Linked DNA regions of Homo sapiens: all the other regions are reported to be linked to region 1. Evidence: microRNA targets listed by miRTarBase, many of them from high-throughput screens and not tested one by one. Region 1 holds a microRNA gene; each other region holds the end of a gene's coding sequence.
What was found. Region 1 holds the annotated microRNA hsa-miR-3689a-3p (CUGGGAGGUGUGAUAUCGUGGU, at 1,889-1,910, shown strand). A microRNA usually pairs through its seed, bases 2 to 8, with sites in the 3' UTR of a target mRNA and lowers its output. Matches are read on the target gene's strand: a 7mer-m8 pairs with bases 2 to 8, a 7mer-A1 pairs with bases 2 to 7 and ends in A, and an 8mer does both.

Region 1 (5,423 bases):
ACCCTATGGGGTGGGGTGTGGGACCTCACACACTGCAGGTTCTACCACCACCTCCCCGCGGGTGGCTTGGCTTAGAAGGCCTAGAGGTGGACCTAGAATGCGTACTTTTAGGGGGCTCCCCGGATGACTTCAACAGGCAGCCAGGTGGGGGCCACTGATGGGCAGACACCAAGAAACACCAGGAACACTTCTGCTAAGCGCTGGCCTTGTCCCATTAAGAACCTGTGGCTCCCCTGGGAGGTGTGATCCCGTGCTCCCTGGGAGGTGTGATCCCGTGCTCCCTGGGAGGTGTATCCTGTGCTCCCTGGGAGGTATGATCCTGTGCTCCCTGGGAGGTGTATCCTGTGCTTCCTGGGAGGTGTGATATCGTGGTTCCTGGGAGGTGTGATCCTGTGCTTCCTGGAAGGTGTGATCCTGTGCTTCCTGGGAGGTGTGATATCGTGCTTCCTGGGACGTGTGATGCTGTGCTTCCTGGGAGGTGTGATCCCACACTCGCTGGGAGGTGTGATCCCGTGCTCCCTGGGAGGTCTGATCCCGTGCTTTCCTGGGAGGTGTGATCCCGTGCTCCCTGGGAGGTCTGATCCCATGCCTCCTGGGAGGTGTGATATCATGGTTCCTGGGAGGTATGATATCGTGGTTCCTGGGAGGTGTGATCCCGTGCTCCCTGGGAGGTCTGATCCCGTGCTTCCTGGGAGGTATGATATCATGGTTCCTGGGAGGTATGATATCGTGGTTCCTGGGAGGTGTGATCCCGTGCTTCCTGGGAGGTGTGATCCTGTGCTTCCTGGGAGGTGTGATCCCATGCTTCCTGGGAGGTGTGATCCTGTGCTTCCTGGGAGGTGTGATACCATGCTTCCTGGGAGGTGTGATCCCACGCTCACTGGGAGGTGTGATCTCACACTCGCTGGGAGGTGTGCTATCGTCTTCCCTGGGAGGTGTGATCCTGTTCTTCCTGAGCGGTGTGATCCTGTGCTCCCTGGGGGGTCTGATCCTGTGCTTCCTGGGAGGTGTGATATCATGGTTCCTGGGAGGTGTGATCCCGTGCTTCCTGGGAGGTGTGATATTGTGGTTCCTGGGAGGTGTGATCCCGTGCTCCCTGGGAGGTGTGATCCCGTGCTCCCTGGGAGGTGTGATCCCGTGCTCCCTGGGAGGTGTGATCCCGTGCTCCCTGGGAGGTGTGATCCCGTGCTCCCTGTGAGGTCTGATCCTGTGCTTCCTGGGAGGTGTGATATCGTGGTTCCTGGGAGGTGTGATATCGTGGTTCCTGGGAGGTGTGATCCCGTGCTTCCTGGGAGGTGTGATCCTGTGCTTCCTGGAAGGTGTGATATCGTGGTTCCTGGGAGGTGTGATATCGTGGTTCCTGGGAGGTGTGATATCGTGGTTCCTGGGAGGTGTGATATCGTGGTTCCTGGGAGGTGTGATCTGGTGCTCCCTGGGAGGTGTGATCCCATGCTTCCTGGGAGGTGTGATCCCGTGCTTCCTGGGAGGTGTGATCCTGTGCTTCCTGGGAGGTGTGATACCATGCTTCCTGGGAGGTGTGATCCCACGCTCACTGGGAGGTGTGATCTCACACTCGCTGGGAGGTGTGCTATCGTCTTCCCCGGGAGGTGTGATCCTGTTCTTCCTGAGAGGTGTGATCCTGTGCTCCCTGGGGGGTCTGATCCTGTGCTCCCTGGGAGGTGTGATATCATGGTTCCTGGGAGGTGTGATCCTGTGCTTCCTGGGAGGTGTGATATCGTGGTTCCTGGGAGGTGTGATCCCGTGCTTCCTGGGAGGTGTGATACTGTGCTTCCTGGGAGGTGTGATCCCGTGCTCCCCAGGAGGTCTGATCCCGTGCTTCCTGGGAGGTGTGATATCGTGGTTCCTGGGAGGTGTGATATCGTGGTTCCTGGGAGGTGTGATATCGTGGTTCCTGGGAGGTGTGATATTGTGGTTCCTGGGAGGTGTGATCCCGTGCTTCCTGGGAGGTGTGATCCTGTGCTTCCTGGGAGGTGTGATCCTGTGCTTCCTGGGAGGTGTGATCCTGTGCTTCCTGGGAGGTGTGATATCGTGGTTCCTGGGAGGTGTGATCTGGTGCTCCCTGGGAGGTGTGATCCGGTGCTCCCTGGGAGGTGTGATCCTGTGCTTCCTGGGAGGTGTGATCCTGTGCTTCCTGGGAGGTGTGATATCGTGGTTCCTGGGAGGTGTGATCCGGTGCTCCCTGGGAGGTGTGATCCAGTGCTCCCTGGGAGGTGTGATCCCGTGCTCCCTGGGAGGTGTGATCCCATGCTCCCTGGGAGGTGTGATCCCGTGCTCCCTGGGAGGTGTGATCCCGTGCTCCCTGGGAGGTGTGATCCCGTGCTTCCTGGGAGGTGTGATCCCGTGCTTCCTGGGAGGTGTGATCCCGTGCTTCCTGGGAGGTGTGATCCCGTGCTTCCTGGGAGGTGTGATCCTGTGCTTCCTGGGAGGTGTGATCACATGCCTGCTGGTGATAGAGAGGCACAGCTCCCCATTGGGGAACAACCAGGACCCAGCCCTGGGAGGTGTGGATTCAGGAGGGCCCCAGAGGCCTGCATGAGCTAGTGAGAGCTAGGAGGTGGTGTCCGCACTGGGAGCGGGACCCACACAGAGGGCACGTGGGGTAAGCATCAATGAAGTTCCGGGTGTCAGCCAATTGCACCCTCCCAATGGCCCTGGAGCAGTTGCAAAAGCTTCCTGCTCTCCCATCGTCCCCTTCTCCAACCCACTCCCGAATGCAGACGCCCCTGGCCCTCCTGGGTGGCCAGAGCCTGAGGACACTCACTAGGACAGCCCTGGGCAGCTCAAAGGAGCACTTTGGCCTGGCACAGGCCAGCTCCAGGGATGCCCCCACCTTCCTCCACATGCATGGATCGGGTTTCGTCACCAAGACATCTGCAGGACAGGAGCGGGGCCTCTGGCCACATGGCCAGAGTGCCTCCTCCATTCATGGGTCCCATGTGCAAATGGGCAGACAGGAGCTCTGAGCAGCAGATTCCCCGAGGCCACATGGGGCACTGGTGGCATCTGAGCCTGGGTCGCTGAGGCAGCTGTCCTCAGCCTGGTCTCACCAGGCCACAGCTGTCAGTGGGTAAACGTGTGTGCGCGTGTGTGTGTGCTCCTGCGGCACTGTGGGGGTCATGCCTGTGGCTGAGCATCTCCTGGAATTCTCTCGTCTCACTTTCGACCTCCTCTTCTCAGCAAATCCCATCAACCCCATCTTTGAAACACCTGGAGCCGGAGTGTGACCCACTCTCATGGGTCTGCACCGCCCCCAGCCTGCGTCTGGGTTACTGCCCCGTGTGGCTTCCCTCCCCATCTCTGCTCAGGCCACACCAGCCCCCTCCCACTTCCCCTTCCTCTCCCCACTCCCTCTGGCCTCTGCCCTGCTGTTCCCTCTCCTGCAAAGCCCTTCCTGCCCGCTGGGCTCCAGGCAGAGAGAACCTTCCCAGTGGCCCTGGTCACCCAGGAGAGCACTTCAATCCCCACCCCACACACACTACACACCCCATACACACAGGCACACACACCACACCCACACACACACTATACAGACACAGCACAAACCACACACACAGGCATGCACACTATACACATGCAGCACACACCACACACACAGGCACATTCCCCACAGGCACGCACACATATACCATACACACGCCAGCACACACACCACACAGGCACATGCACAAACACCACCTCCACACACAGGCATACACCACACACACACACACCACACACACCACACACACAGGCACACACACCACATACACAGGCACAGCTCCCCACAGGCACACACACACACCACACAGGCACACCACACACACAGGTACACACACAACACACATACACTTCACATAAACACAAATAGCACATGCAAAATACACCACATAGCACATGCACACACGTGCCATACACACATGCACATCACCCCCCCCACACACACACAACCACACACATGCACATTGTCTCCTCCCCTTTACATTTCCTCAGGTCTCATTCCTCTGGGCACACCTTACCCCTGCCTTGTGGGTCTTGGTCAGCCCGTGTCCCCTGGAGTGGCATCTCCTTGAGGGTGGGTTCTCCCCTGCTGCTCCCGCCTGGCACACAGCAGGTGGTCAATGAACTGCCACTGAAGGAATGGGGGAATGAATGGATGAATGAAAGAGTGGATGGATGGATGGATGGATGGATGGATGGATGGATGGATAAATGATGAATAGATGGATGGATGGATAGATGAATGGATGGATAGATGGATGGACAGATAAATGATGAATAGATGGATGAATGGATGGATGAATGAATGAATGGATGAACAGATGAATGAAAGGGTGAACGAATGTGTGGATGGATGGATGGATAAATGATGAATAGATTAATAGATGGATGAATGGATGAATGAATGGATGAATGAAAGGGTGAATGGATGAATGGATGGATGGATGGATGAATGGATGGATAAATGATGAATAGATGAATGGATAGATAGATGAATGGATGAAAGGGTGAATGGATGGATAGATGAATGGATGGATGAACAGATGAATGAATGGATGTGGTGGCAGAACTCCTTGGGGCCAGTGGGAGGAGGAAGGCAAGGAAGGCAGACTGGGGGCATGCACCCTCCCTCCAGGGTTCCTTCTCCCCAGGAAACTTCCCAGAGCTGTCACCTACAACCCCGAGAAATCGTGGGAGTCCCCTTGCATGACGGGTGCGAGGGGAGTCCCACAACTCTGGGCCACAACTGTGCCATGGCTCAGCCACCGGCCGAGTGGACCTCAAGCCTCCTGCTGCCTGGGATGGTCAAAGGGTCATTGTGAGTCTGAGCCACTGACTCCTCCAGACCAGGCTGGGGCCCCTCTGCAGGATGCCTCTCCGGAGGACAGATCAGCTGCCCACCTGTGCATTTCTGGCCGCTCCACCAGCAGGCACCACGCCGACTGTCCGCCCACCTGCCTTGCTCTCTCTCCTCTTCTGGATTCGATGGCAAGGACCTTCAGACCCATCAACCTTTGACGACTGTGAGCGTCCATTGCCGGAGTCGCTTTCCCAACTCAAATGCATTTATTAGGCGCCATCCTAATCTACTCCAGGATTTTAAGAAAGGGGTGGGCTGCTCAAATTCATGACGACTGAGTTTTAACTGGCGTTTGTCCCTCAAGGCGTCTCTCAATGTGGTCTTTAAACAGTTGATGTTGGGAAACGGTTGCCTCTTCCAACTCTGCGCATCCTTGATTCGTGGGCCGTTTCCTTTCATTCCTGGCTCTTTCCAGAGCTGGTCTGCCACGTGGTACCTTGCCACATGGAATTCAGGCATCCAGCCTGCCCACCATCATTTCATGTCAAGCCTCCTCCCCAAGGGTTGCAAGTTATGAGTTCATAATCTACCTCTGAGCTATCACAGTGATCAAACAATTGTACCC
Region 2 (5,000 bases), not on the chromosome of region 1:
CCCTATATTCAGCCCAAGAGGGAAATCCCAGCAGAGGAGCAGATCACCCTGGAGCCTGAGCTGGAGGAGGCACTGGCACATGCCACAGATGCTGAAATGTGTGACATTGCAGGTGGGTAGCTGTGGGAAGTTGAGGGTGAGAGGATCAGGGGCAGGTGGATTCTAGCCATGACATGGGACTAGTGAGGAAGGCCCTCAACCAGAATGTGGATGTCTAAGAAAGCGTCAAGCAGTAGTTTCAAGCTTTTCTTGTTTGTTTATATATTTATTCATTTTTAAATTTAATAACACCTCAAGAGCAATTTTACAGGGATTGTAAGAGCAAATAAAAGTGGAATCATTGGGCCAGGCACCATGACTCACACCTGTAACCTCAGCACTTGGGAGGCCTGAGTGCACTTGGGAGCACTCAGGATTGCCTGAGCTCGGGAGTTCAAGACCAGCCTGGGCAACATAGTGAAACCCCGTCTCTACTAAAATACAAAAAACTGGCCGGGTGCGGTGGCTCACACCTGTAATCCCAACACTTTGGGAGGCCGAGGCGGGTGGATCACGAGGTCAGGAGATCGAGAACATCCTGGCTAACACGGTGAAACCCCGTCACTACTAAAAATACAAAAAATTAGCTGGGTGTGGTGGTGGGCGCCTGTAGTCCCAGCTACTCGGGAGGCTGAGGCAGGAGAATGGTGTGAACCCAGGAGGCCGAGCTTGCAGTGAGCCAAGATAGTGCCACTGCACTCCAGCCTGGGCAACAGAGCGAGACTCCGTCTCAAAAAACAAAAAACAAAAACAAAAACAACAACAAAAAAAATTAGCCAGGCATGGCAGCATGCACCTGTAATCCCAGTTACTTGGGAGGCTGAGGCAGAAGAATTGCTTGAACCCGGGAGGTGGAGGTGGCAGTGAGCCAAGATCGCACCACTGCACTCCAGCCTGGGGGACAGAGTGAGACTCCGTCTCGGGGGGAAAAAAAGTGGAACCATTCTGGCTGAAAGAGGAGAGTCTCTACAGACTCCTTTATCCTCTAGTGGCTCATAAGGGACCTTCCCTTAGCCCTTTCTCAATGTTTTAGAAACTACTGCCTTAAGAAGTTTATGGAAAGGACCCCTGGGGCTGAAAGAGGGTGGGAAACTTCTTTGGCAAAGTGTAAGTGGTCAGGCTTTACAAATGCAACAGATTCAGAAATAGGTAGGAGGGAGGCTTGGAACAGGTTCCTTCTCATTCCCTGTGACTCCTCTTCTTACCCTCTCCAGCAATTCTGGACATGTACACACTGATGAGTAACAAGCAATACTATGATGCCCTCTGCAGTGGAGAAATCTGCAACACTGAAGGCATTAGCAGTGAGTGTGTTTGGGGAGCATGGTCCCCAGGGCTCTGGGCAGGCAGTCCTAGTGTCTGGGAGAAGGTAGAAAAGGGTGAAATTGATGATTCTGGGAGAGGACATGCTGCATGAGTGATAAGAAAACCTGTGGAGTGCCAGGTGAGGTGGCTCATGCCTGTAATCCCAGCATTTAGGGAGGCCGAGGCAGGTGGATCACCTGAGGTCAGGAGTTCAAGACCAGCCTGGCCAACATAGTGAAACCTTGTCTCTACTAAAACTACAAAAATTAGCTGGTTGCATGCCTGTAATCCCAGATATTATACTTGGGAAGCAGAGGCACAAGAATTTCTTGAACCCGGGAGGTCAAGGCTGCTGTGAGTTGAGATTGTGCCACTGCATTCCAGCCTAGGTGGATAGAGCGAGACTCCATCTCAAAAAAAAAAAAAAAGAAAAGAAAAGAAAACCAATGGGGAGGAGATTATGGGGAACATGTTGGGGTTCCCTTCCTGCCCTCATTCACCAGGTGTGGTACAGCCTGACAAGTATAAGCCAGTGCCGGATGAACCCCCAAATCCCACAAACATTGAGGAGATACTAAAGAGGGTCCGAAGCAATGACAAGGAGCTGGAGGAGGTGAACTTGAATAATATACAGGTATTTGACTTGCATCCTCCAAACCATAACACCGGATAACCACTGACATCCGAGAGTCCCTTAGCCCACCATCTCCTATTCCCCTCCGATAGGACATCCCAATACCCATGCTAAGTGAGCTGTGTGAGGCAATGAAGGCAAATACCTATGTGCGGAGCTTCAGTCTGGTAGCCACGAGGAGTGGTGACCCCATTGCCAATGTAAGGCTAGTTGACATCCCCAGCCCTCTCCCCACATCTTACATGCACCTGTTGCATGGCTGTCATAAAGGGTTTTGCTAGGGAGTGCTATTCTCATCATGCCTTCTTAGGGCAGCCCTCATGGAGACTCCTACCTTCAGTGCTATGGCTCATAACTCTCTACTCTCTCTAACACCCCTAGTCCCACTGCACATTCATCTCCCTGCTTTCCCCTGCTATCCGCCCTGCTTTCTGTATCCCTCTAGCTCCATTTACAGCACCTGAAAGACTCTTCTCAAAGAGCTGTGTTTCCCTCTTGCTCCTGTTCTTTCTTTCCTCAGTCATCTGTGAAACTGTTCCCTAATCCTAACCCAAGTCCCTACTACCCAGGCAGTGGCTGACATGTTGCGTGAGAATCGTAGCCTCCAGAGCCTAAACATCGAATCCAACTTCATTAGCAGCACAGGACTCATGGCTGTGCTGAAGGCAGTTCGGGAAAATGCCACACTCACTGAGCTCCGTGTAGACAATCAGGTCAGCATTCCCTTCCCCTGATGTTAGCATTCAGTCTCATTGAGTCTCCTCCCTGAGCCAGCCAGTGGGGCAGCTATCTTACTTAATCTTGCTTGAATTCTCCTCTTCATTGTCTCTGTGAGGGAAGCCAAGTCAGCATCTCTCTTCACCCACTGTGGAGAAACAAGCTTCTTTGACCTCCCAAAGGGGTCTGTGATGTGGGATGGTAAACAGCCCAGAGAGGGTGACTGTCAGCTTTTGCCTCTCCCTCCCCCAGCGCCAGTGGCCTGGTGATGCAGTGGAGATGGAGATGGCCACCGTGCTAGAGCAGTGTCCCTCTATTGTCCGCTTTGGCTACCACTTTACACAGCAGGGGCCACGAGCTCGGGCAGCCCAGGCCATGACCCGAAACAATGAACTACGTGAGTAACTGCAGACATGATGTGTGGAGTGGTCAGGGAAGTGCAGAAATTGGTGGATCCTCCTGAAAGCAGACCTAATGACTAACAGCCCAGGGTGCTACCAAAGAGCTATTCATATGAGAATTTCAAATCCCAAGAGTGATCAGAAAGTAAACAGAAAACTCCCCCTGCCCCAAATATGGACCAGTAGAGAGGTAGAAAGGATGCCAGAGATAATCATACTTGTTTAGAGGTATCGTAATTTTATTTGTGGTGTGGTTTCTTGTTTTGTTTTGTTAATGTGGGATGGGCCTGTAAGGTGGCCTAAGACACTACCAATTTATGAGTTTGGCTAAGGGACTGGAAAGGAGAAGAGTGCCTTTGCAGAAAGCAGGAGCTGGAACAAACACTTATGTTTAATATTGCTCCTTTACAGGTCGCCAGCAAAAGAAGAGATAACACTGCATTTCCCTTTACCAACTAGCGCTGGGAGCACTGGACACTTAAATCCTCATCTGTCCTCCTTTCCTGTAAATAAAAGCCCTTCTATCCATTTTGCCTGCCTCCTTCCTTGGGCTTTGGGGTGAGAATCTTGGCGCTAACCCCCAAGGGTTACTGCCAGTTCACCAGGGGATTATTTATACTCTGGGGATCAGCAGGCAGGGAGGTTCAGGTTACTAGGAGGAGGTGGGGGTGTTCCCTCCCTTGGTGTTCCCCATAACCCTGCCAATGCCTTTTGACTCTTCTACTTTCACAGGGAACTTAGCCACAGCCCTGTTTCCAGATGTGGCCAGGTCCCCCTAGTGCCTACCTGCAGTCCTTATGTGATTTGAAGGGGGAAAGGACTTTGAGTGGTAGTGGAGAAGCAGGCAGACAACATGAAGGGCAAAGACCTCTTTTTGACAGTCTTATTAATAGGGCACCAGGCTGATGCAGCTGACGCTTGGCATGGCTTTGGTAGGAGGTGGGGGAGGGGTTAGAAGTATGGATAGCCGTGGCTGGGTGCGGTGGCTCATGCCTGTAATCCCAGCACTTTGGGAGGCCGAGGTGGGCGGATCACGAGGTCAGGAGATCGAGACCATCCTGGCTAACACAGTGAAACCCCGTCTCTACTAAAAATACAAAAAATTAGCTGGGCATGGTGGCGGGCGCCTGTAGTCCCAGCTACTCAGGAGGCTGAGGCAGGAGAAAGGCGTGAACCTGGGAGGCAGAGCTTGCAGTGAGCCGAGATCGTGCCACTGCACTCCAGCCTGGGCGATAGAGCGAGACTCTGCCTCAAAAAAAAAAAAAAAAAAAAAAGGAGTGTGGAGAGCTGTGTACCTTGCAGGCAAGGAGTAGTTGGAATGAGAATGAACAGATCTGAAATCCTGAGATCCAACAAGGAACCAGACTTAAGGAAAGTTAAGTTCTCAGCACCCATTGTAATTTATTTGTGAATGAATGGGAAAAGGGTATCAGTCCAAGGGGAGATCAGGTGGTTCCTCCTCATCAGAGTCAAACTCAACATTTTCATCTTTTACCCATCGACCTCGTCCATCTGGGATCCATCCAGAGCTGGAAACATCAGAGAAAATAGCATCGATCAGGAAAGAGGCTTATTAAGAAGTTAGTGGTGAGCTCACACCAGTAATCCCAGCACTCTGGGAGGCCGAGGCAGGTGGATCACTTGAGGTCAGGAGTTCGAGACCAGCCTGACCAACATAGTGAAACCCTGTCTCTACCAAAAAAAAAAAAAAAAAAAAAAAAAAAGTTAGCAGTGAGAAAAAATTGAGAGCCATGTAAGTTGGGTGGCTAAAACAAAACGAAACCAAAGATGGAAAACAACAATGGGAGTCCGGGTGCGGTGGCTCACACCTGTAATCCCAACACTTTAGGAAACTGAGGCAGGTGGATCACCTGAGGTCAGGAGTTCGAGGCCAGCCTGACCAA
Region 3 (5,423 bases), not on the chromosome of region 1:
TTGTTGCCCAGGCTAGAGTGCAATGGCGCAAATCACAGCTCACTGCAACCTCCGCCTCCTGGGTTCAAGCAATTCTCCTGCCTCAGCCTCCTGAGTAGCTGGGATTACAGGCACGTGCCACCACACCTGGCTAATTTTTGTATTTTTAGTAGAGAAGGGGTTTCGCCATTTTGGCCAGGCTGGTCTCAAACTCCTGACCTCAGGTGATCCACCCGCCTTGGCCTCCCCAGGTGCTGGGATTACAGGCGTGAACCACCGCACCCAGCCTGTACTCTTTCATAAACGTCAAGACAGATGAAGAAAGGTAAAACAATTTGCCTAAGCTGTGATTTCTAAGTGACCCTCTTCACTTTGTCAAAGCATTCATTCATGAGAAAACTATGGAACTCCTGTGTTCTTGAGAGGCTGCAGTCCGGTGTGGGAGGCAGAGCAGTGGCCAGCACACAGCATGGTGAGGCGACAGAGCGTGGGGGCTCTAATAGGAGGTGAGCAGGGCACTCAGCCAGGCGCTGGCGCTCAAACCTAGCGGAAGGCAGAAAGAGCCATGAAGAAGTGGACACTATTTTACTCCAGTAATAGTTCATTTTTATTGTGTCAAACAGTGGACTCTACGTATATTATATTATTTAACTTTTAACATATGCTTAAGAGATGGGCACAACTTTTGCCACCGTATGGTGGGATTAGAGCCTAAAATAGTAATAGATAACTTGCTCTCCACCAGTGTGATGGGCAGCCCAAGATCTGCACCCAGTCTGTTCCAGGGCCCAGACCTTTACCCACTACATTCTCCTTTCTTCTTTTCAGTATCTTCATAACATTCTAATTTTTTTGTAGAGATGGGGGTCTTGCTATGTTGCCCAGACTGGTCTTGAACTGGCCTCATGTGATCCTCCCACTTCTGCCTCACCAAATGCTGAGATTAAGATGTTAGGCACCACACACCACCATCAACATTCTTCTTAACACATTTTGTAAACCTTGTGGAGCCTTCCACTTCAGTGATGATCCCATCAACAGCTAACATTTACCACCTTGGCAGACCGTAAGTCCAAGACACAACTCGACAGGTATAGACTCAAAGCAGACATCATATCTCTGTGTATAGGAAGACACATTTTCTACAGCCTCATGCCACCTTCTCAAGTCTCTCTGGTCCCAGGACAATCGTAACATGGAGATGGATGGCTGGAAGAACAGGAGCTTGACAGCCAAAACTCCAGACCCAAAGAGGAATGCCCCTCGATGACATCTCACCCATCAGCTGCTGCAAACTTGCCTGATCAGTCGTGAACCCCACTTGAGGAGGGACACCGACTGTTAAGTCTCACCCATTCTTAGGACTGTCAGTGTGACCAAAGCTGCCACCTGCAGAGCCCAGGAGAGGAGTCCTCGCCTTTACCCCCTTTCCCATCTCCATCCTTCTCCCCGAAGCCCACAGCTCAGTGCCCTCTCCTGAGGAAGCCTCTGATCCCACAGCCAAGCACAAGATCTAGGCCTGTGGGCACCAACAGGATGGGGCTCTGCAGTCAGGGAGCGTCAGCTCGGTGCAGGTACAGGTGCCTTAGTGACCTATAGGTCAGGGGCATGACCTATGGACCGAATCGAGCCATTCACAGTGAGGCCTCACCTGTCCTGGGATCGCAGGCACACACAGCTCCCCACAACCACTACACACACACACACACACACACACACACGCATTTTAAATTCCCATGAAAAAATTAACTTTGCATATATGGGCCACATGCCCTTCCACATCCTGCTTAAAGCACCTCAACAGCCCCTAAGTTCCTGTTTTGTCAAAATGACTTGCCCTGGAACCGGGCACAGGCAAGGCTGCCCATGTGAGTGTGAGTCTGTTCACCCATCTCTGGTCCACAGCCCACACCAGGGCCTGGTCAGGCTGCCTCCCATCGTCTTCTGCGAGCAGGCCCAGCTGGCATACACAGGTGGCGACCTGGAATCAAGCAATCAAGCAGGTGCCTTCTCTCAGGTCACTCTTCCATACTTGCTGAGGAAAACCACAAAAGACCTCCAAGCTGCTTGAGTTAAAGTCTCCATTTATTTTTATTTTTTTACAAAAATCCAATGTAAGACCATTGTGCTCGTGACGAAAAGGGGTGGGGTGGATGGACGTGGCATGGATATCAAAGCTTCCCCCCACAAACTAGGAGCTCCCCACTCTGTCCGGCGCAGCTCCCAGAAAGATCCCATCCTTCCGGACAGGACCCCAGCTGGTGAGCCCTGGCCTGAGGCACAGTCCACACGGAGGAGCACTGCCCAGGGAGCCAGCGCTCACAGTGGCCTGCAGAGCCCTGGGACGGTGTTATGGTAAGACAGCCCAAACCGGAGCAGCAAGCCGGCCACCCAGAGAACGAGGCGCTCCTGCACCCTGCGAGCCAGGACAAGGTGGCCAGGGGCGGCCCACAGACAGCCAAGGAGACCCGGGGTCTGTGGCGCCGCTTTCCCATCTCAAGCGAGTCACAGGTCGGCGGCTTTCCCGTGGTGAGAAGCACCTGACCAGTGACACTGTGGCCACCTTGCTGCCTCTCGCTGAGGAGGGCGTGCCCCTCAGAGCCTGTCTGCAGTCCTTCAAGCCAGTGTTCCTTTCAGGGTCAAGGAGGGCTGTCCTTGTTGGAAGCACCGGCACCACAGCCCTCCCTGCGGCATGTTTTGGTGTCAGACCACTCAGCCCTTCTTAGATCCACCAGTGACATTCGGGGCCCGACAACCTGGCTCCACTAAAGGGAGAGGCCCTGGCTCCACCACACAGACGGCCCCAGCTCACTGAGTCCCGCTAAAGGGGGTCCCACCACACAGACGGCCCCGGCTCACCGAGTCCCACTGAAGTCAGTATGTGAGTTCCTCACATTAAAAGAAACCAGATGAAATAGCAGCCACAATATAGCGCCACACACCACACTCTTTGGCTCCCCGAGGGAAGAAGGCTACTGCTAAAAGGAATACAAGTCAGGAGTCAGGTAGAGGGCAACTAGAAAGTTCTGAGGAAGGGCGTCTGACCCCCACTGCTGGGAACATAACCACACTGCCTCAGCAGGGGAGCTACAGGCTGATGCTGGGGTTGGGGGCGGGGAACCTTTGGAAACACAGTCCTGGCGGCGGCCGGGTCCGGTTTGCCAATGGGGAGAGTTCCCTTAAGCCGAGCTAGCCCTACAGGTGGGTGGGAGCTACACAAAAGAGCCCAGCTTCAAAACAGTACTTGAAGAGGACCCACGTGGTACAGGCAGGTCAGAGGAGAACGTATTCCAAGAAATAGAAGCACAGGATGCCAAGGTCTAGGGAAGACGGAACTGGCTTAAGGCATGTGCATGACCAGGACAAACCTGAGCTTTTGTTCAGTTGCTAGAAAACTTCCAGAGTCAACTCCACTTCCAGAAAGTAGGGTTCAAGAAACACGTCATGGGCTAAATCCCTGACAAATGCCACTCACACCCTCCTAGGTTCCCCTACTGCCACCGTGACCCAAAAAATTAGCTTATTTCAGTTTCAGCCCAGGGAACAGAATCCTAAGCAGGGAGTGGAAAGTGGTAACTCGGGTTGTGAATGCCCGTTAGATTCCAAGGCTGGATGTGAGCTTACACAGCAAATCACAGCCTCCCATTGTTCTAGCACATACCAAACCTCGGGGAGTCCTACAGCCAAGCTGACATTAGGGGTCCAAAAACCACAGATAACACAGGATGGGGCTCCAGACAGAGGCGGGGGGAAGGTGAATTTCACCAAGGAATTATCCCAAGGCAGGCGCCTTGCTGTAAAACTTCCCGGCCAGCCGGGTGGGTTCCTCGAAGGACACTGGCTTGCTCTACACTAGGGAGAGGAGGCTGACCTGCAAACCACTTCAGACCACAGCAGATGTGCACGCTGCTGATCTCCTGTCCAATCCAAGAAAGAGCACTTCAGAAACGCCTGAGGCCCACAGCACGTGTGTTTCAACAGAAGAGCAGGATAGAAAGAGCCATCTGGGAGTGGCGTCTTCAGCCCCTATTCTTTCTCACTCTTTGCTTCCTCATTCTCTCTCAAACAAGAGAGAAATGGGAGAGCAGGGATAAGTACGGAGGCAAGCCTGGCCTAAAGATAAATCCTCAAAAATCGCTGGCCCCAGCAGCAGGAAGCTGAACAGCCCACCAGGGTCAGGCGCTCCCAGGGATTCACTGGGAAGAGAATGTGAGTTACAGGTTGCTGACTGGCAACAGAAAGGGTAAGGAAGAGACCTTGTCCAGGCCCGCAAGAGGGCCAAGTTCATCCCTTTCTGGTTGCTGCACACAGATGGCGCTGGGGAGGATGGGAGATGATCTTTAAGGATAAGCCAGTGACACAAGGCCAGGACCCATCTCCGCCAGAATACAGAACAAAGGAGCCTGCGCGGTCCCTCCCTTAGAAAGGCAAAACTCACACTCCCCCAGCCAAAAATATATATGTATGCAAGTGTGTGCATGTATTTATATACACACACATATATATAAATAAGCCTTGAATGGCAAATCTGAAACTTTCTCTTTTTAAATAATCATAATAGTTGTTATTGAATGTAAAAACCACGAACCAGCTGTCCTGGGCGTACGAACGGTGTGAGTGACTCTGCAGAGTCGCCACAGTCCTCAGTGTAAGCTATCAGTCAGTGCCCTGTGTGGGGAACCCCGGGGACTCCGCCCAGGGCTCCAGGCCCAGTGTGGCTGACTTCAAGATAAAGGCAGCGGTTTCCTTCCACTCCTCCTGCTGCCCCTTCCAGCAGAGGCTCTGGGCCACCCACCAGCAGATGTGCCCAAGGTCCTGCAATGCCTAGGAACCTTGGGAGCCATCTTCCTCCCTCTGCTCATCCTCTTCCCCAGACCGTGCGCTGCCCCTAGATGAACTTGAAGCACTTGGTCTTGTCATGGGGCAGGCGTGTCTTGAAGAGCACAGAATCCACCCTGAACTGCGTGTACAGGAGGGGCATGTAGCCGTACACCTTCACGAAGAAGTTGATGCACTTGTGCCGCTCGTGGAAGTGGGAGTCATCATGAGACAGGGCCTGAGGGCATCCTGGGCATCGGAATGTCCACCGTGAGGTCACCTGGAAACGGGAGAGAGAGACAGAGTGGGAATCCCAGCTAATACTGACAGAACCCTTGCAGCTGAGCCGATCCCACACTCCCATGTCCATGGTGAAGACGCTGATCCCCTCAGGGGCAACATCCCTGCAGAGCATGGCAGGAACCAGAGCCCGGCCCCAGGCCTCCTGCCTACCAGATGTCTCCAGAACATTGTCAGGTATTCTGTTGAGATGGCCTACGCTTCTCAGATGCCAAAAGCCTTAACGTGTGTAGTGTCAGCTGTCTCAGTAAGTCTACTCCTAGTATGTACTTGGTTGCAGAGCCATAGGTAGGTACCGAGTTGTTTGTTTCATCAATGTTTTGAAT
Region 4 (5,423 bases), not on the chromosome of region 1:
CCTGAGGGGCCAGAGGTGCTGCCATGCTGTCCTCAGCGTCACCTGGGGATGAGCTTTTAGAACGTGCTTTGAAAAGGGTCAAATATGATTGAACAACAATAGCTATTTTTTGGAGCTGCTATCATGTCTGGGGCCTGTGGACTTATTTCTGAACTCTTGGAAATTGGTATTATTATCCTATTATAAAAGATAAAGAGGCTTTGAGTGGTTAAACCATTTGCTTAAGGAGATGCTGGAAGTGACAAAGATGGAATCTGAATTCAAATAGTAGTAGTAATAGCAAACAACTGTAATAACAGGAGCTAATATTTGCCAGGGGGCAATATTACTCTTTTAAGTATTACCTCATTAAACAATCCCAGTGACCCATGGGGTGGATGTTATGATTCCCATTCTATAGGTGGAGGAGCAAGACCGAGACAGATGGAATGACTTGCCCAGTCACCAAGGCAGGAGGTGACAAAGCTGGCCTTGAACCTGAGCCTGCCTGGGGCCAGTGCCCAAGCCAGCTGTTTGACAGTCCTTCCCTGCACCCCACAACCCTACAAGCATCAAAGGTCACCCAGCAGCCTCTCCCAGCCAGCCCCAAGTGCATCTTCTCACCCTTCCAGGCTGGAGCTATCTGACCCTGAAACAGGCTGCTGAAGGCAGCCTTGGGAATCCTGACTTAGCTCCCGAAGAGGGTCGCATGGGTTCTCTTAGAAAAGGGATTCTTACCGGGAGGTTCCATGGACTTCCTATGACTGGATGCAAACTTGTGAATATGTGTGTGTGCATTCCAAAGGTGACAAACCACAGCTTGAGAAGTTTCTGATTCTGTGGAATGGGAGAACACGAGGGATGTCCCCAAAGTTTCTAGGTCTCCGCAATCTGCCTGTCCCTGCCTCTGTTGGACTTTAGCACTATCTTCCAGGAGGACTCTGAGAGAAGAAAAGCAATAGGCCAAGGCAAGTTAAAACTGTGCCGCCTGCCTCTAGCTGGACTGACTGCAAAGATGCATTTATTCCAGCTTGTGTCAGTATTGCCAGAAGATTCTCAGGCCCCGCCAGAGGGGAGGGATGAGCCACAAATCCTTCCAGGCACTGATTTATGTAGCATTCATGCGGAATTTATTATACAAAGAATTTTATTCAATTAAACTTGAAATGCATCTGGATTCTTAAAGGTTCAGTAGTGATCACTGGGACAGGGCGATCATAAAACTGAATGGGCTGTCGGAAGGTGTCGAGGCAGCAGCAAGGGTGACATTGCCACTGACGGGGGCTTCCGAACTGGGGACGTTTGTCATTGGGATGTGTTACAAGTTCGGGCTGTGGAAATTACTCGATGAAAAACGCACATTAACGATAGCCATGAAATATTAGTTAAGGGAAACTAGGTTGAGAAATGAGACAGCAGGATCTATCAGAGCCTGGCATTGTTCGCCACAGCCCAGGTAGTGATTAAAACGACTGTCAAGCGGCAGTGGGTGGGAGCTGAGGAGCACGGGGCTGTGAGTGACGAGGCCGCGTCCGGGGCTCACATCTTGGCACTGACTCCCCAGGACAACTTGGTTCCCCACCCAATGCCTCCTTCCAGGGCTGCTATGGGGTTCAAATGAGATAATGTCTGTGGAACACTTGGCTCAGGGCACTGCACATAGCAAGCCCTTCCACAGTGCGGGCTGGTGTCACTGTGACTGTGGGCTTCTCTCTGACACAAGAGCCAACTGCCAGCTTGTCTCTGGAAATGACACTAAACACCCCATTCCAGGGAGCCTGACCTGGAGGCGGAGGAGGCATTTTCATGGGTGCAAAATGTAAGGAAGTGCCCACAAACTCAGGGATCGAGTAGTATTTGTGTGCAATATTTTCCAAAATCAAATTATGAAAAAAATCTACGATAAGCAAGGGATCACGACTTTAAATAAAAACAGGCTGCTGTTTGTTTCAAAACCCCGTGTTCCCGTGCAATGGGACTGATTGTTTCTGAGAGTTGCCAGTGGTGTGCAAACACTGGGGCAGCGGGGGCTTCGCAGTCACATTTCCTGACTGTAGGGCTTTCATTAACTTTTCCCACCTGGTTCAAAATATGGGAGGACATTTGCTCAGTGTACAGAGGGGTACACATCTTTTCTTTTGCCTCGGGCTCTTGATAGAGCTTTTGAAAGGCACTGCAGAAGAGCAAATGTTTTAAACACCCCATCCTTCCAGCCCCCAAAGCAAGCTTTCTCCATTTTTCCCAGGTTGGTAGCACAGGAGAGAAACACCTGCTGAGTGGTGGCATCTGCCCTGCACCCAGGTGGTTTCTCAGAGAAGTGTTTGCTGGTGAACCGGGAGACAGATACAGAGGCGGGGGTCTGAGAACGCGACTGTTAACATCCAGGCTGTGACACCCGGTCCTGGAAGGACAGGACTTGGCAACAGGTGAACGGCCTTGTTTCAAAGATTGTCACTTTAGGATGTTGTATTTACTCAAAAAGCTTTCCTTATCCTTTGGAGGCTGTGCTTTCCCATGGCTAGGCATGCAGGGCTGCTGTGTTATTTTATATATATATATATATTCCAGGAAGATTTTGAGATTTTGAGGTGTAGACAGAATTGAGTGATTCGCTGCAAGCTCTTTGAACATACTCCCTGACCGAGCCTTAGTGATTGCGTTTTCAGGGTTTTTTTTTTTTTTTTTTTTTTTTTGTGACGGAGTCTCACTCTATCAGCCAGGCTGGAGTGTCGTGTCACGATCTTGGCTCACTGCAGCCTCTGCCTCGTAGGTTCAAGTGATTCTCCTGCCTCAGCCTCCTGAATAGCTGGGATTACAGGCACCCGCCACCATGCCCAGCTAATTTTTTTTTTTTTTTTTTTTTTTTAGCAGAAATGGGGTTTTACCATGTTGACCAGGCTGGTCTCAAACTCCTGACCTCAGGTGATCTGCCTGCCTCGGCCTCCCAAAGTCCGTTTTCAGCTCTGTTTTGCAAACACTGAGCACCGACTCCGTACCAGACCTGGTAGTGACGATGGGGGCAGGGAGGCACGGAACAAAGCCACCTCCTGGAAGGCATTCACACACTCCTGGTCATCTGCACCTCACCCACCCTGCCCAAGGCTCAAGAGGGCCATCACAGCCTGTCAGCAATGAAAGGACCCAGAAGACACAAGTGAATATACCTGGCCCTCCTGCAAACTTTGCAGGCCAGGTGGTAAGAATGAAGGCAAAAATATGCACGTGACTAAGAAGGTAATGTTTGCTGACTTGCCAGCAAGAAAGATGGCCGGAAAGACCAGCTGTCCCGAGCCTAGCGCGGTGGCCCATGCTAAGCAGCCACTCAGTCAATATGTGATGGCTGAATGGAGTTCGCCAGGCATTTCAGCCCTGAAACTGGACAAGAGCCTGCCCTTCCAAAGTCATTTCCTGCAATTAGCAGCCTGCAGTCTTTAGGTTCTTGGGGCTGCCTCTTCTGCCCTTCATAAATATTGCCTTTCCCAAGGACACTGCTGGCACTGGCAGTGTCGTTTCATAGCAGGAGGGAGCAGCAGTGACAACTGAAATAAATACAGCCGTGGCACCGATCTCAGAGGCATAAGCCAGCCAAGTGCAACATCGGAGAAATCAGTCTGGTGGATGTCAGCCTTGCTGGAAACTGACAACCTCATTTTCTCAAGCTGAAGATGCTGCACCGCAGACCCTTGACTCAGTCCAACCAGACAGGGAATGTTCACCTTCAAGTGGTAGTGTTGTTCTCATCAGCATCTCCATCCCTTTCAGAGGGGGTCCTCTAAGCTGCACCCCCATCACACACACTTCAATCTAAGCCAGGAGTTTCTGAGCCTCGCCTGTCAATCTGCAGCTATCCTTCCCCCACACTTTGGCGGTGATGGGTGGCTCAGAGGTGACTAAACTTCCAAATCTTGTCCGCCTTCCCCTTTACAAATGTGACATTTAAAGCACCTTTGGCACAGGTAAATCACAATTACATTTTCAAGGGCCTCTGGTCCCATTCCAAATCTGTGAACAACCTGAGCTGGCAGTGGGAGGGCTCTCTCTCACACACACACACACACACACACACACACACACACACACACACACGGCTCCAGCCTTTCCAACTTTTATTCCTTTTCCGCACAGCTCCTTCTCATTGCAGCAATCACTTTACCTGTCTTTCCTGCAATGCCAATTCATTCCCACATCCCTCCAAGACCCAGGAGAGCTTGGGGAAGCAGGGTCAGGGACAGAATCCCCAAAGGGTCACAGTCCCTTGAGGAAGGTGGCAAGAGGTGTAGATCAAAGCTGAGCTGGGACAAAAGGCTGCTTTGAGCCTCTCTGGGTGAGCTCTTCAGGAACCAGGACCCCAGAAGGGCAAGCTCCTCTCTCCACGGCCATCGCCATGGAGGGATCCTCCAAGCTCCCACTTTCTGTGATTTCAGAGTCCCTCAGACTCGGCCGATGGGTCATTTTTCATGTATATTTTCTCTTGATTCCCCTCCTTCATGGCTGCATATCTGGCTAGCGTGAAGAGATAGTCACTGAGTCTGGAGGGGCAGAGAGAGAGAAGCAAACAGAATGGTTTGAAATGAGAGATCAACGCTAACTGGGTCTTCCCATATCCGCCTACAAGGAGGAGATATAAATGACGCACTCTGGGCACATTGTGCAGGGAGGGCGGGGGCCCAGCCATCTTGCACTTAATGGATGGCACACGAGGCCAGCTGCTGTGAATGCCAAGGACTCTACTCCAGTGTCAAGGCTGGGGCCATTCCTGCAGGATGAGGCCATTGCCCCGGCCCTACCCCATGGGGCAGATGACTTTGGACTCCTCTCTGAGCCGGTTTTTGCACCTTTGAGTGATCAGGGCTCAGGTGCGTGATCAGTTTGGGTGTTTCCCAAACTACAGTGTGCACAGGCATCACCAGGGGATCTCAGCGACGTGCAGATTCTGACTCAGGAGGGCTGGGCTGGGCTGGGCCCGGGGCTCTGCAGGTCTAGTTCCTGCCCTGGCTGATGCTGACACTGCTGGACTAGGCCCTACTGACATTCTGGATCATTCTGTGTGTTCGGGGCTGTCCTGTGCATCCTGTGCAGTGTAGGATGCTGACAGCACCTTTGGTCTCCACCCACCAGGTGCCAGTGGCACCCCTGCACCCAGTGTGACAACTAGTAATGCCTCCAAACATCGCCAAAGGTACCGGGTGAGAAGCACAGGCTGGAGCACTCTAGAGACCAGAGCCCAGCCCCTTTCCCGCCTCCTCCTTTGAACCAACAGCAATGGTCATCTGTGCATGAGGCCTTCTGCAGGGGCAGCAGTGGAGGGAACTAGAGGACGACGCCACGGGCCCCAGAAGGCGCTTACGCTGTCAGCTCTTCTGCCTTCTGCTGTCCGCACCTTTTGCTGTTTCACTCCCAGCACGAGGCACCACGTTCCTCCCTCTCTCTCTGCCCCAGTCTTG

Region 2: the mRNA of SCNM1 is a reported target of hsa-miR-3689a-3p. Seed matches in the 3' UTR shown: 7mer-m8 at 4,273-4,279 and 8mer at 4,106-4,113.
Region 3: the mRNA of EXTL3 is a reported target of hsa-miR-3689a-3p. Seed matches in the 3' UTR shown: 7mer-A1 at 4,813-4,819 and 7mer-m8 at 419-425.
Region 4: the mRNA of MMAB is a reported target of hsa-miR-3689a-3p. Seed matches in the 3' UTR shown: 7mer-m8 at 4,005-4,011 and 7mer-m8 at 2,072-2,078.

Annotation. Positions count from the first base shown.
Region 1 is chr9:134,845,813-134,851,235 of GRCh38, reverse strand. It overlaps MIR3689C (microRNA 3689c), which reads left to right and starts at 1,867; the gene lies at 1,867-1,938. It overlaps MIR3689A (microRNA 3689a), which reads left to right and starts at 1,672; the gene lies at 1,672-1,749. MIR3689D1 (microRNA 3689d-1) reads left to right here and starts at 1,554; the gene lies at 1,554-1,627. It overlaps MIR3689B (microRNA 3689b), which reads left to right and starts at 964; the gene lies at 964-1,111. It also overlaps MIR3689D2, MIR3689E, MIR3689F and LOC101448202.
Region 2 is chr1:151,168,611-151,173,610 of GRCh38, reverse strand. It overlaps SCNM1 (sodium channel modifier 1), which reads right to left. Exons shown (of 7, transcript NM_024041.4): 7 at 3,315-4,625. The coding sequence ends at 4,526. It overlaps TNFAIP8L2-SCNM1 (TNFAIP8L2-SCNM1 readthrough), which reads right to left. Exons shown (of 7, transcript NR_144937.2): 7 at 3,315-4,625. TMOD4 (tropomodulin 4) reads left to right here. Exons shown (of 10, transcript NM_013353.3): 4 at 1-112; 5 at 1,254-1,343; 6 at 1,848-1,978; 7 at 2,071-2,178; 8 at 2,548-2,691; 9 at 2,948-3,092; 10 at 3,508-3,624. The coding sequence ends at 3,530. Among named protein-coding and RNA genes, the nearest start is that of TMOD4, 4.9 kb to the left of the region's middle.
Region 3 is chr8:28,750,311-28,755,733 of GRCh38, reverse strand. It overlaps EXTL3 (exostosin like glycosyltransferase 3), which reads right to left. Exons shown (of 7, transcript NM_001440.4): 7 at 135-5,077. The coding sequence ends at 4,868. Among named protein-coding and RNA genes, the nearest start is that of EXTL3, 52 kb to the right of the region's middle. RefSeq lists enhancers at 2,074-3,016, 3,017-3,961.
Region 4 is chr12:109,552,629-109,558,051 of GRCh38, forward strand. It overlaps MMAB (metabolism of cobalamin associated B), which reads right to left. Exons shown (of 9, transcript NM_052845.4): 9 at 1,087-4,508. The coding sequence ends at 4,400. Among named protein-coding and RNA genes, the nearest start is that of MMAB, 18 kb to the right of the region's middle. RefSeq lists an enhancer at 5,010-5,423.